3 separate regions of the Homo sapiens genome follow, and all the other regions are linked to region 3. The links come from fine-mapping of genetic effects on gene expression. A gene starts in region 3. Each other region holds a variant in brackets. All regions are shown on one strand. Distances are between the middles of the regions. Region 1 overlaps SYNPO2 (synaptopodin 2). Region 2 overlaps SYNPO2 (synaptopodin 2). Region 3 holds the start of MYOZ2 (myozenin 2).

The links. PIP is the estimated chance that this variant, and not a neighbour inherited with it, causes the effect.
Region 1: its variant is the best candidate, but not a certain one, in a credible set for the expression of MYOZ2 in transverse colon (GTEx, PIP 0.64).
Region 2: its variant is the best candidate, but not a certain one, in a credible set for the expression of MYOZ2 in gastroesophageal junction (GTEx, PIP 0.77).

What each region holds. Positions count from the first base shown.
Region 1 is chr4:119,049,313-119,053,555 of GRCh38, forward strand. The region is part of intron 4 of SYNPO2 (synaptopodin 2); the gene reads left to right. Among named protein-coding and RNA genes, the nearest start is that of SYNPO2-AS1, 67 kb to the left of the region's middle. The variant A/G (reference allele first, on the strand shown) is at 2,020.
Region 2 is chr4:119,029,892-119,034,134 of GRCh38, forward strand. It overlaps SYNPO2 (synaptopodin 2), which reads left to right. Exons shown (of 5, transcript NM_133477.3): 4 at 1-2,136. Among named protein-coding and RNA genes, the nearest start is that of SYNPO2-AS1, 47 kb to the left of the region's middle. RefSeq lists an enhancer at 1,781-2,280. The variant C/T (reference allele first, on the strand shown) is at 1,909.
Region 3 is chr4:119,133,310-119,137,552 of GRCh38, forward strand. It overlaps MYOZ2 (myozenin 2), which reads left to right and starts at 2,523. Exons shown (of 6, transcript NM_016599.5): 1 at 2,523-2,673; 2 at 3,203-3,292. The coding sequence starts at 3,217. LOC102723967 (a long non-coding RNA gene) reads left to right here. Exons shown (of 3, transcript XR_001741422.1): 3 at 1-245.

The sequences.
Region 1 (4,243 bases), 84 kb before region 3:
CACTTTTCTTGGACCTCCCAGAATCTGTGTATGATAAAGTATATGTTTGTGATGATCATTTACTGATCATGTGTTTAAGAGAGAAAAGAGTCAAAGGAATTGAAATCATATTTATCAGTTGACGCCCCTTTCCCTACAGTGCATGTGTAAGCAGGGTTTCAGCCAAGAGAATTGTATCACTTTCAAGGTTTATGGTATAAAATAGTTTAAACTTTGACTCACGACACATACATCAGATTTATCTTCTTTGGCTTCTAGGACAGTTTACATTGCTTTAAAATTCACTTCTTTGTGCTAAGTAAACCTCAGATTACACTTTCTTTTTGCATGTCAAGTGTTCCCTGCCAGTTAAATTGGTTACTAGACAGCTAGACAGTTTAACAAGGAAGCTAACTAAGCTGTTTTATTAACAAGCTGTGTGGATAAACCAACATTTAATTGACATGAGAAGATGGTTTATGTTAAGCTGAGAAAGGCCCTCAGCTCCTCTGAGCTTTTCTCCTGCATGCAGAGCCCCGGATATCTCATCTTCATGCAGCAGAAGTGCATCTAAATGCGATGCACTGTATTCCCTACGGCCCGGTCACCTGCCTGTTCTTGTGACAAATGCCAAGATGCCAGTATTCTTTAATCCAAATTTAATCCAAATTTAAATGACCTTTTCCAAAATTTCTAAGATCTTACTCCATTTAGTTTGCATGGTTTTGAATCTTTTTTTTAAAAAAAAGATGTTCTCAGGCTGGGTGCAGTGGCTCACACATGTAATCCCAGCACTTTAGGAGGTTGAGGCAGGCAGATCACCTGAGGTCAGGAGTTCAAGGCCAGCCTGGCCAACATGGCAAAACTCCATCTCTACTAAAAGTACAAAAATTAGCCAACCATAGTGGTAGGCACCTGTAATGCCAGCTACTCAGGAGGCTGAGGCAGGAGAATCACTTCAACCCGGGAGGCAGAGGTTGCAGTGAGCCAGGATCGCCCCACTGTACTCCAACCTGGGTGACAAGAGCGAGATTCTGTCTCAAAAAAAAAAAAAGATATTCTCTCAAAACAATATCATTGCAAGTATAGTCCAATTAGATTTAGGAACTCTGGTATGAGACTGCCTGCCTGGGTTCAATTTTCCACCCCAACACTTACTAGCTTTCTACCCTTGGGGAAATTACTTACTTTCTTCAAATCTCACTATCCTCTGGAAAAATAGGGATAATAATAGTGCCTCTACTTCACGGGGTTGTGACGATTACGTGAAACACTCCACATAAAGAAATCAGCCCCCACTGCCTGGCATACAATAAGCAATCTATTAATGTTGGCTATTTTTAAAGGCAGAGGTAGAAAAATGCCTCCTTAGTGTTAAGCCCTTTTGTGGGACTATATAACACCAGATGACTCATGAGTTCAGTGGGAGTCTTGCATGCATTATATTGGGCCAGCTAAAGATTGGCGTGTGCTCTCGTGGGTTGAATAATCAAAGAACAGAATACTCTAAATGCACACAGACTGAATGTTCCATATGCAGTATTAACTATACCATCTGCCAGATGACATGGTCCCGCAGTCATTTTGAATGATGTCTTCACTCAGCACGTGGCCTTGTGTTTATGTACACACATCTACTTAAGAAGATCAAGATATTATACCTGCATTAGCCTTGCCCAACAAACTGGAGGGAGAAGGATGTGGAGAACTTGAGGGAGTGAATGACATAGATATTATTTCTCCTTAGTTTGAAAAATAACAGATAGCAACAGGATAGTAAAGATATTCAAGGAGGGTGGAAGAAACTGGGAATGTATGAAGGAATGGCTGCATAGAAGTACAAGTAGATGTAATCCATGTTAGCAGAATCACTGGGGTAAAGCCATGGGAAGCAATTTTTTTTTTTTTTTTTTTTTGAGACGGAGTCTCGCTCTGTCGCCCAGGCTGGAGTGCAGTGGCGGGATCTCGGCTCACTGCAAGCTCCGCCTCCCGGGTTCACGCCATTCTCCTGCCTCAGCCTCCCGAGTAGCTGGGACTACA[A/G]GCGCCCGCCACTACGCCCGGCTAATTTTTTGTATTTTTAGTAGAGACGGGGTTTCACCGTTTTTTAGCCGGGATGGTCTCGATCTCCTGACCTCGTGATCCGCCCGCCTCGGCCTCCCAAAGTGCTGGGATTACAGGCGTGAGCCACCGCGCCCGGCCGGGAAGCAATGTTTGATTCAATGTAAGAAAGAAGTTCCCAAAATCTAGAGCCTAAGGATTGACCAAGATGCTCTGGAAACAAGTAACCCCTCTTCTCTAGAGAGAAGACTCAGTGAGGTATAAGCTTTCAACTTTATTCGAAGTTATTAGAGAAATTTCTTGGAATTGATTTGTAGAAAAATATTTCCAATTTTAGCTTATATTTTACTTTAAAAAGAAAAATAGGAGAGAGGGAGCTTTGTACTGTACTGAAAATGAGATGACAGGATGTTGAAGTTTTACCCAAGGCCCCCAGATACAACAGATGCTGCCCACTGAAGTGAGATTCCAGATTCAAATGCAGACTCTACAAAGAATATAGTAGCAAATGACTTCCACAATTCTTGAAACCTTCAGCCAGGTCCAAGTGATTAAAAGGGGTTGATTATGGCAAGGAGAGAGGATTCTGTGAGAAGGAATTCCAGAGTGCTGAAGATGTGTGTGTTTGGAGTGGGTGGCGTGGAGGGGGTTTCACCTTTTTACCTCAAGCTGTGTGCAAGAAGAGTTTCAAAGTGTCTTCTTAGAGAACTTCATGGGAGATACTTGCATGAGGATGGGTAGGAGGTCAGAGTGGGGTCTGAGTGCCACTCAGGAAATTTGGAGGGAAAGGGACAGGCTGACAAACTGTTCTGGCACAGAACCAGGACATTTTCTTCTGCATCCCCACAGGCAAATGATGTGAGTGTTCCCCATGGACCAGGCCAGTCCAGGCTAGGAGCAAGGGAGAGCTGGCTGGGGTCAACCTGGGGCCTCTCTGAGGGGGCAGATGGATCCTAGTAGCTACACACTGTAGGTAGACAGCTTCCTAAGGGAGCATATAGGATGAGTCCAAAGTCACTCCCTAGAACAGAGAAGAATTAGCATGAATCAAGGACTAGAGGTAAGATGTCCCCAGTGATGGGAATCTTTCAATATCCCATAAAAATGTCCCTCTCTGGGCCTGTCTGGCCCCAAGAGTAAGAGGCCAGAACATGATGTTGCCAAATCAAGTAAAAACTTTCTTCTCCTCTTTTATTCTACTCCTTTTTTTCCTCCAACCCCAGGGGGCCAGAAGGCAGAGTTAGCGACCTGAGAGAAGAAGTGGAAGTAGAGTGAAGAAGTCAACCACACTCCTTCCCTGAAGGAAGGCAGCCTTTCTGAAGCAGGCCCCAGCTGGGGAAGGAGAGGAGATTTAACTCTAATAAAGTTGAAATTGGAGTTTGTTATTTCAGGGGATGGCATCATCTATTTCAAAATAAAACTGGTTTGAGTAACTTAAGGTAACCATTGAACTCTTCCTAAAAGTAAGCAAAATGTCCCAGGATCTGCTAAGTTTTCTTCCAGTGGCAGCAGAAAACTTTTTTTTATTAAATAAAGTTTAAAAGGTAGTGGGAGACAGAAAGAAGCAATTTGATGGGTAAAGCTAATTTAACATCTTGGTTACAGTTAAGTGCTCTCATATAAAAATATTAAATTCCCTTGATGATGATATAACCCATGGTGGAAGTGACAACCCAGGACCTAATCCATGCTATGCTAGGATTCCAGCGTCAGACATTCAAACTCCAAAACAAAAGAAACACCTCTGTTACTTTCAGGTTCCTTTGGTCGTTTCTGGCTCAGGGTATATCACATGGCTTCATTCAGCCAGCCAAACAGAGAACAGCCTGAGCCTTGAAACTGTGATGGACAGAAGGAAACAGCACCAAAAAACACTGTGAAAATTGCTTTGGGGAAATACATTAAAATTAGAAGTATGGGTGCCAGTAGAGGCTAGAGGCTTGCAATATTTTGGACACAAACAGAAACTACATTGTACCTATGGAATGATTTATTTATATCCCAGTTGGATCTCTAACCTAAAATGGTTTATCATCTTATCCTCTATTACTAGCACTTGAAAGAATGTGAAGGCATGTTCGTCAGTCTGGGGAAATGTAGAAGAGCCATGGTCATTTTGCTCATTGAGCTGGTTGCTCTTCTTTCCTCACTGCTGTTACATTTGTCATATGCATGTTTGGCGTGAGATTTTTGCTTTCAGCTTCAA
Region 2 (4,243 bases), 100 kb before region 3:
AAATCTAAATGCAAAAGCATTGCCCTTCTTCTAACGGATGCTCCCAACCCCAACTCCAAGGGGGTGTTGATGTTTAAGAAGCGACGTCGGAGGGCCAGGAAATACACCCTAGTTAGCTACGGTACTGGCGAGCTTGAGCGAGAGGCGGACGAGGAGGAAGAAGGTGACAAGGAGGATACATGTGAAGTAGCATTTCTTGGTGCAAGCGAATCAGAGGTGGATGAAGAGTTATTGTCTGACGTTGACGACAACACACAAGTTGTGAACTTTGACTGGGATTCTGGACTGGTGGACATTGAAAAGAAACTGAACAGAGGGGACAAGATGGAGATGTTACCAGACACCACAGGCAAGGGAGCCCTCATGTTTGCCAAGAGGAGGGAGAGAATGGATCAGATCACAGCCCAAAAAGAAGAGGACAAGGTAGGTGGAACGCCAAGCAGAGAACAAGATGCTGCCCAGACCGATGGCCTGAGAACCACGACTTCTTACCAAAGAAAGGAGGAAGAGTCGGTAAGAACGCAGAGCTCTGTGAGCAAAAGCTACATCGAGGTGAGTCATGGTCTTGGCCATGTTCCCCAACAGAATGGCTTCAGTGGGACATCTGAGACAGCAAACATCCAGAGGATGGTCCCCATGAATAGAACGGCCAAACCCTTCCCAGGGTCTGTGAATCAGCCAGCTACCCCCTTCTCGCCAACCCGAAACATGACGAGTCCCATTGCTGACTTTCCTGCACCTCCACCTTACTCTGCAGTCACTCCTCCCCCTGACGCCTTCTCCAGAGGGGTTTCAAGTCCGATTGCTGGCCCAGCACAGCCCCCTCCATGGCCCCAGCCTGCCCCGTGGTCCCAGCCAGCCTTTTACGATTCGTCTGAGCGAATAGCTTCCCGAGATGAGAGGATCTCAGTGCCAGCAAAAAGAACAGGAATATTGCAGGAGGCCAAAAGGAGAAGCACGACAAAACCCATGTTTACTTTTAAAGAGCCCAAAGTAAGCCCAAATCCTGAACTCTTGTCACTCCTTCAAAATTCAGAAGGCAAACGGGGCACTGGAGCTGGAGGTGATTCCGGACCGGAAGAAGACTACCTCAGCTTGGGGGCAGAGGCTTGTAATTTCATGCAAAGCTCCTCTGCCAAACAAAAGACCCCTCCTCCTGTTGCTCCAAAACCTGCAGTCAAGTCCTCATCCTCCCAACCAGTAACTCCAGTTTCCCCAGTCTGGTCTCCAGGAGTGGCTCCCACCCAACCTCCTGCCTTCCCCACATCCAACCCATCAAAGGGCACCGTTGTCTCCTCCATCAAAATAGCCCAGCCTTCTTACCCTCCTGCCCGGCCTGCAAGTACTTTGAACGTGGCTGGTCCCTTCAAAGGACCACAAGCAGCAGTAGCCAGTCAGAATTACACACCCAAACCAACAGTTTCCACACCAACAGTCAATGCTGTTCAGCCTGGTGCAGTGGGACCATCCAATGAGCTTCCAGGAATGAGTGGGAGAGGAGCTCAGCTCTTTGCTAAAAGGCAGTCGAGAATGGAGAAGTATGTGGTCGATTCAGACACGGTGCAGGCCCACGCTGCTCGAGCTCAGTCTCCCACTCCATCTCTCCCGGCCAGTTGGAAGTACTCCTCCAATGTCCGAGCACCTCCTCCTGTGGCCTATAATCCTATCCACTCGCCGTCTTACCCACTGGCTGCTCTCAAGTCTCAGCCATCAGCTGCACAGCCCTCCAAAATGGGCAAGAAAAAGGGAAAGAAACCCCTCAATGCATTAGATGTCATGAAGCACCAACCGTATCAGCTCAATGCATCCTTGTTTACTTTCCAACCTCCAGATGCAAAGGATGGCCTCCCCCAGAAGTCATCAGTCAAGGTCAATTCAGCCCTGGCCATGAAGCAAGCTCTTCCTCCC[C/T]GGCCAGTGAATGCTGCCTCACCTACGAATGTGCAGGCTTCGTCAGTGTACTCGGTACCAGCCTATACCTCTCCTCCTTCCTTCTTTGCAGAGGCCTCCTCACCAGTCAGTGCATCCCCAGTGCCTGTGGGCATTCCCACCTCGCCAAAGCAAGAATCAGCCTCATCATCTTATTTTGTGGCACCAAGGCCAAAGTTCTCAGCCAAGAAAAGTGGTGTCACAATTCAGGTGTGGAAACCATCTGTTGTGGAAGAGTAATCTTGTAGCTGAAGCTGAGTGTCCACTTTGCTTGAAATGAATTGTTTGCAGTGTTTCTTGAGTCCCTGAGAATGCCTAGCAAAGTCCTCAACTTACTTAATTTCAGATATGTCACCTCCTAATCTGGGTCCAAGGAGTATAATATTTTTAATGAGTCAAAAATCCAACTCAGATTGACCTAAAATATATTTATCTTCTTTGCACACTTAAAAAATCCAGGAGCACCCCAAAATAGACATGTACCGTTATATTAAGTAAGCAGGAGACTTAGGATTTGTGCTGTAGCCACAAGAAAGACAGTGATCAGTGATATCAAACATCAGGAATCAGCCTTTATGTAACATAACAGCTGTCCTCCTATGGTGAAAGGTTCAAATGTAGTGAAGGTATAACCTATATTGACTGAGATTTCCCTTTTAGGTAGTGCCTTATCTCTATTACTAGTGTTAAAGGAATAAGGAATCTATGAAGGACAGGGAGCAGCTCTGGTCTGTCAATCTCAGCCACCTGTTTGATATCACAGAGAAGATACTCGGAGGATTGTTGGAATGTATATAGTTTAGTAAGAAGTGGGTAAGAAAGAGGGTCTTAATTACTGAGCACTTATTATGTATTAGGTTCTTTGCCAGATGTTTTTACATATATAAACTCATTTCAGAAAACTTATTTAAAGTAAATGGGGCCGGGTATGGTGGTTCATGCCTGGAATCCTAGCACTTTGGGAGGCTGAGGTAGGAGGACTGCTTGAGGCCGGGAGTTGGAGACCAGCCTGAGCAACATAGTGAGACCCTGTCTCAATAATAATAATAATAATAGTAATAATGAAGTAAATGGGATAAGGAAAGAAGGATAATTATCTTTAAAGGTTGATTCCCACCCTCCCTCCCCAGTTACTTAAGGAACTAAGTGAGTACATCTCCAGTTGCCCATGAAAGCATAAGTTTGTTTTCCTCAGCTGAGGCAAGTGGTAGAGTATACAGGATAACGAAGTAACATGTAAAAGGCAGGACGCACATAAAGGTGTACATGGCTATTGTTTCACCTGGAGAAACCACATGATTGGGACCTGAAGGTTTACTGACTGACTACAGGGGCTGATTGTGAAGCACGAGGAACCCCATGTGTGTGGAGACTGTAGGGTGAGAGCACACAATTATTAGCATCATTTCTGAGTGATCTCACAGATTTTTTTTCTTGTGTTTGCTTTGCTTTTTGACAACTGCTTCTCCCACGTTCCTTGCAATTCTATTCTCTCACCTTCACTTTACTATTTGTATTCGATGGACCAGGATAATTCAGGCAAGGTTACCTTGTAAACTTTAATTGGCCACACACCATGTTGTCACCCAGCTGGCTATGAAGTGAATAATGGTACTGAAAGTAAACCTGAAGACCTTTCTCAGATCTATTTTAAGTCTGAGTCTGACCAACCATGGAAAATATTCGACATGAATTAATGTAGAGAACTATAAAGCATTTATGACAGCTCCAAGAAAAATCATCTACTCTATGCAGGAGATATGTTTAGAGACCTCTCAGAAAAACTTGCCTGGTTTGAGGGTACACAGTACCATTTTAATCTTCTGAAAATATCTGTATTCCTGCTCTTTTTCTGCTGTCACTGTCAATCTGCTATATTTTTCACTATCCTATTAAAATATTACTGTCTCCTTTATCTGTTCAATGTCCATATTTTAAAAAAATCTTCCTTGTATGAGCTATTCTGATCTAAATAATTTCTCTGATATTTCTCTATATGGCTCCCACAACAATTTCATTGTTGTTAGCATATCTATTTCTCCATACATTGTAAAACTGTAATCCTTAGGTATTTCTAAAACATAAAGAGGAGAATTAAGTCAGCTGCAGAACAATGGGGCTGATTCTTCTGCTTTTTCTCTGGAAAATCTTTCATTGCTTTTGGTGGAAATTTACCTAGAGGTTACAACCACAGGATGTAGCTTGGTCTCTTATTTGCCTTTTTGGGAAACCAATTAAGATTAATACAGGATAAAGGAAAAAAGCAATCTATTCATTATATAACACAGTTGTTTGTATTACTTGTTCCCTGCAAAGG
Region 3 (4,243 bases):
TCTAATAGCATACTATGGTAAAGGCTACAGCCAGGAACATACGGGCACTCAAGGGATTTTGAGAGGGAATTTAAATTTATTTGCTTTGGCAAAATTGTTTCTCATTTGATACCTAATTATACTTTCAATGCAAATGGTTTGTTTAGAAACAATTGCAATAGGTTAGCTAGATTAGCTTAAACCTGCTATCTACAACCTTTAGCTTTCTCTTTTTTTTTTTTTTTAAACAAGGTCTGGTCTTGCCCGGGCTGGAGTGCGGTGGCTTGATCATGGATTACTGCAAACTCTACCTCCTGGACTCAAGCAATCTTCCCACCCCAGCCTTTGGAGTAGCTGAGATTATAGGTGCATGCCACTCACCTGGCTAATTTTTGGGTTTTTTGTTTTTGTTTTTGCTTTTTTGGTAGAGGCAGAGTTTTGCTAGCTGGCCTAGGCTGGTCTCAAACTCCTGGGCTCAAGCGATCCACCCACCTTGGCCTCCCAAAGTGCTGTGATTTACAACCTTAAACTTTCAATCCTATGATCAGGCACCAAAATGTATAACCGATTTCAATCTTATAAAATACAATTCCTCCCACAAATAGCCACCACCTTTGTACATTCAAGCGACTGTTCATTTGAATTCCAAACTCATGCCAAACCTTTAATGCATTCTGCAGTTAATCTCCAACCTACTCATTTATTCATTCATTCAATGAATATTGAGTGCTTACCATATGCCAGATACAATTCCAACTGCTGAAGATACAAAGCCCAAGCCATTATAGGATTCATAGTTTAGTAGAAAAAAGAGATATCACATAAATAGATGCAACCTCTACCTCCTGGACTCAAGCAATCTTCCCACCCCAGCCTTCAGAGTAGCTGGGATTACAGGTGCTAGTAAAACTGTTGAGGACGCCATTTCAACCTTTAGAATTGTACATAACATAAACTTTTGCTAGATAGATAGATAGATAGATAGATAGATAGATAGATAGATAGATAGATAGATAGAATAATGTTGGCATGTTCTTAGTGAAAAAACTGAGTTGTCACTCAGCAACAATTATTTCTTTGTTAGTAAGTTATGTATGAATTTTAATTGGGCTCATGACCACCTAGAATAGAAGCTACACTTCCCAACCTTTCTTGAGTTATGTACGGCTATATGGCTAAGTTCTGCCCAATGGGATGTAAACAGAAGTATGAACAAAATATCAGACATGTTCTGAAAAGAAGACAGTGTTCCCTTCTCATTTTTTTTTCTTTTTCCTGCTGGTTGAAATATATGCATGCTGACTGGAGCTGGGGCAGCCAATTAGGCCCAAGGGGTCTGCATTTTAGGGATAGTGGAGCAAAAAGTTAGAGGGTAACTGAGCCCTTGATAATTATGTCAGTCATGCAAACCCTCAATTACTTACTTCTAGACTAAGCTTACCTGTGAGAGAAACATCTTCCATCTTTTTACAGTTCTGTTTTGGGGGGGTTTCTGTCACTCCCATTTGACTTTTATCTTAACTAATAGAAAAATATAAAGAAAATGAAGCAGAGTAAGGGACTAGAGAGTGGCACAGTGTGATATTTTAGACAAGGTGATAAGGGAAGGATTTTATGAGGGATTGTTATCTGAGCAGAGTCCTGAATGCATGACTGTGCCATGTGAGTAGAGGGAAAGTATGGAAGGGGGAAATAGTAAAAGGAATACAGTATCTATTTTCATTTTGGAAACCAAAATTAACATAATGATTATCTGTTGAGGACACCATTTCAACCAGGGAAAGGGGGAAATAGTAAAAGGAAAGGGGGAAACAGTAAAAGGAAAAGCCCAGAGATGAGAGCACGTTTTTGTGTCCAGGGACCATCAAGGAGGCCAAACCTTTTGACAGGCAAACCTTTCAAATCTTGTCAGGCCTGCAAATGAAAATCCTTGACCCTAGACATTGTAAAGACTGGTCAACTTTGCAGGGACTGGTCTCTGTAGGCCCTTCAAAAAGCATGACCCAGTTATGAGTCTCAGCTTTTACCCAGCTTCATGGCTTATCCTCTAATGGTTCATTTCAAAATGCTTCCTGAGTTCACTATTCAAATACTACATACTTTTCTCAACCTAGCATGAGTTCTCACTACAGCTTAAGAACTGGCTCTATTGATCCACCCCACATTACTTCCTTTCTTCTTGAGTCTACATAGATATTACTGCCTATATTGTTCATTTTAATTATGAAAAATCTATCATTCTGTTCTGATTCATGCATGTGTCTCTTGCCACCTCAATTAACATGTAACATAAGAGCTAGATGTTTAAAAGTGTTTAAAATCCCTTTTGGCTACTATCTGTTCAACAGAAAGTGCTCACTAAAAACTTTCTGCATGTCCAATGAACGTTTCATTTAACCATCTCACAAACTAGAAACACAATGGAGAGAGCCTAATCTTTCCCTGTTCCTCCCTTTCGCCAGGAAGATATGAGTAGCTAAAGTATTTGGTGCTATATATAGCCAGTTGATGTCAGCTGAATGCCAGTCTCTTCAGAAAAGCTCAGTCCCCAGTTTGAGTCAGAGTAGGGACCATGCTGTCCCAGGTTCAAGGATAAAAACCATCAGGCCCAAGTGCCATCCATAGTCCATCTCCAGAGTCTTCCTCCACAAACTGGGATTCATCCCCGCTGAAAAAGCACAATCTAACAGCAAGGTGAGTATGTTGTTTCCTAAAATGTTTCATTAGTCAGTTGTCCAAGGATATTCAGAGTTGTGACTCATAAATGGGCATTCTCTGCTTTAAAGGGCAGCTGTTGCCAATATTAAAATGCTACCACCAAAGAATTCTGGTTTAGTCTAGTGTCTTCTTCATTCTTACAGTTTGCTGGAATTGATGGAGTGTGATGCTGGTACAAATGAAGGCCAGTGAGGAGACAATGACAGACTAAAATACTGTGGAGAAAAGAGAGGGAGGGGAAAGGAGACCAGCAATTTCATTGTTTCTCACTGCCTGATGATCATTGTATTAATGTCCAGACTGGGTCTCTGTTCACTGTGACATTGCCTGTCAATGAATAACATACTCTGTCACCAGATAAGGAATGCGTATTGAAGTCTTTCAGTAGCAAGCGATAATAACTTTTTAATAAAGAACAAAGATGTTGTCTTTCAAAACAGTGATTATAAGACACTCCAAATGAGTTCTTCACATTGCCTCAATAATGTCCCTTTGTTTTTAACAGGGAACAAAAAAACCATGCTATCACATAATACTATGATGAAGCAGAGAAAACAGCAAGCAACAGCCATCATGAAGGAAGTCCATGGAAATGGTATCAATAAAAATCCTTCGTAGCATTAATATAGCACAGCATGAATGTGGCTCCATCCTGACGTTGTTTAATATTCCATAGTTTACTTCCTTTAGATTCTTGCTGTTCTGTCATAACAAACCTGGAGCTCTAGGGGGTGTAGAAAAGCCTATGGTAACTAATCCTTTTGTAGTCATCCTTTCTCATTTGGAAGCTATTTTCAGAGGAACAACTGCTGTAAAAGGCATGAAGCAATCTGACAGCTGATGTACATTCTGCTTGGCTTGCCTTCCACATTATAAGTTAAGATCACTCTCGATTCTTTTTTTTTTCTGGACAAGTCTCATACAATCTTGTCTTTATTGTCCATCCCACATGGTTTAGCTTGATTTCTTTTACCTTACATTATATAAATCACTCAAAATAAGTTCTATCATCTTTTTTATCAAGCTATTAAGTTGGAATTCATATTTATTGCTTATTATTTAACTCCATTTCTATTGCTTATTTATTTAACCCTTCATATTTGTTAATTGATTTACTAACATATTTTGTGTGCAAAGTCTACTTTTATTTGTAACTTCTGAGAAAATATAAAGTTATTGTAGTCTCAAAGCATATGACTCAAAAAAATTTTAATATATATTACGTGCAAGGTAATATTTCACTCTCTCCTTTTCTTTAAATTCTAGCAACTAACTTGAGAAAGCAATGCTTTATAACTTGCATTTTGATTCTTATAAAGGAAATTCAACTTTGTTTATAAGCAACGTATAGCATCAGTTTTAAATGTTAAGAAAAATATTCAGGTCCTCTTAGGAGCTGATTTGAGCCATTCCAGATATATTAGTGGCATTTTCAGAATGCCTCCTTATTTCCCCTGTATTGACAAGGAATGCAGCCTTTCACCACTACAATATTGAGACCTAGAAGCTTGAGACCCGGGAAGAGTATTGAGCATAATGTTTTCAT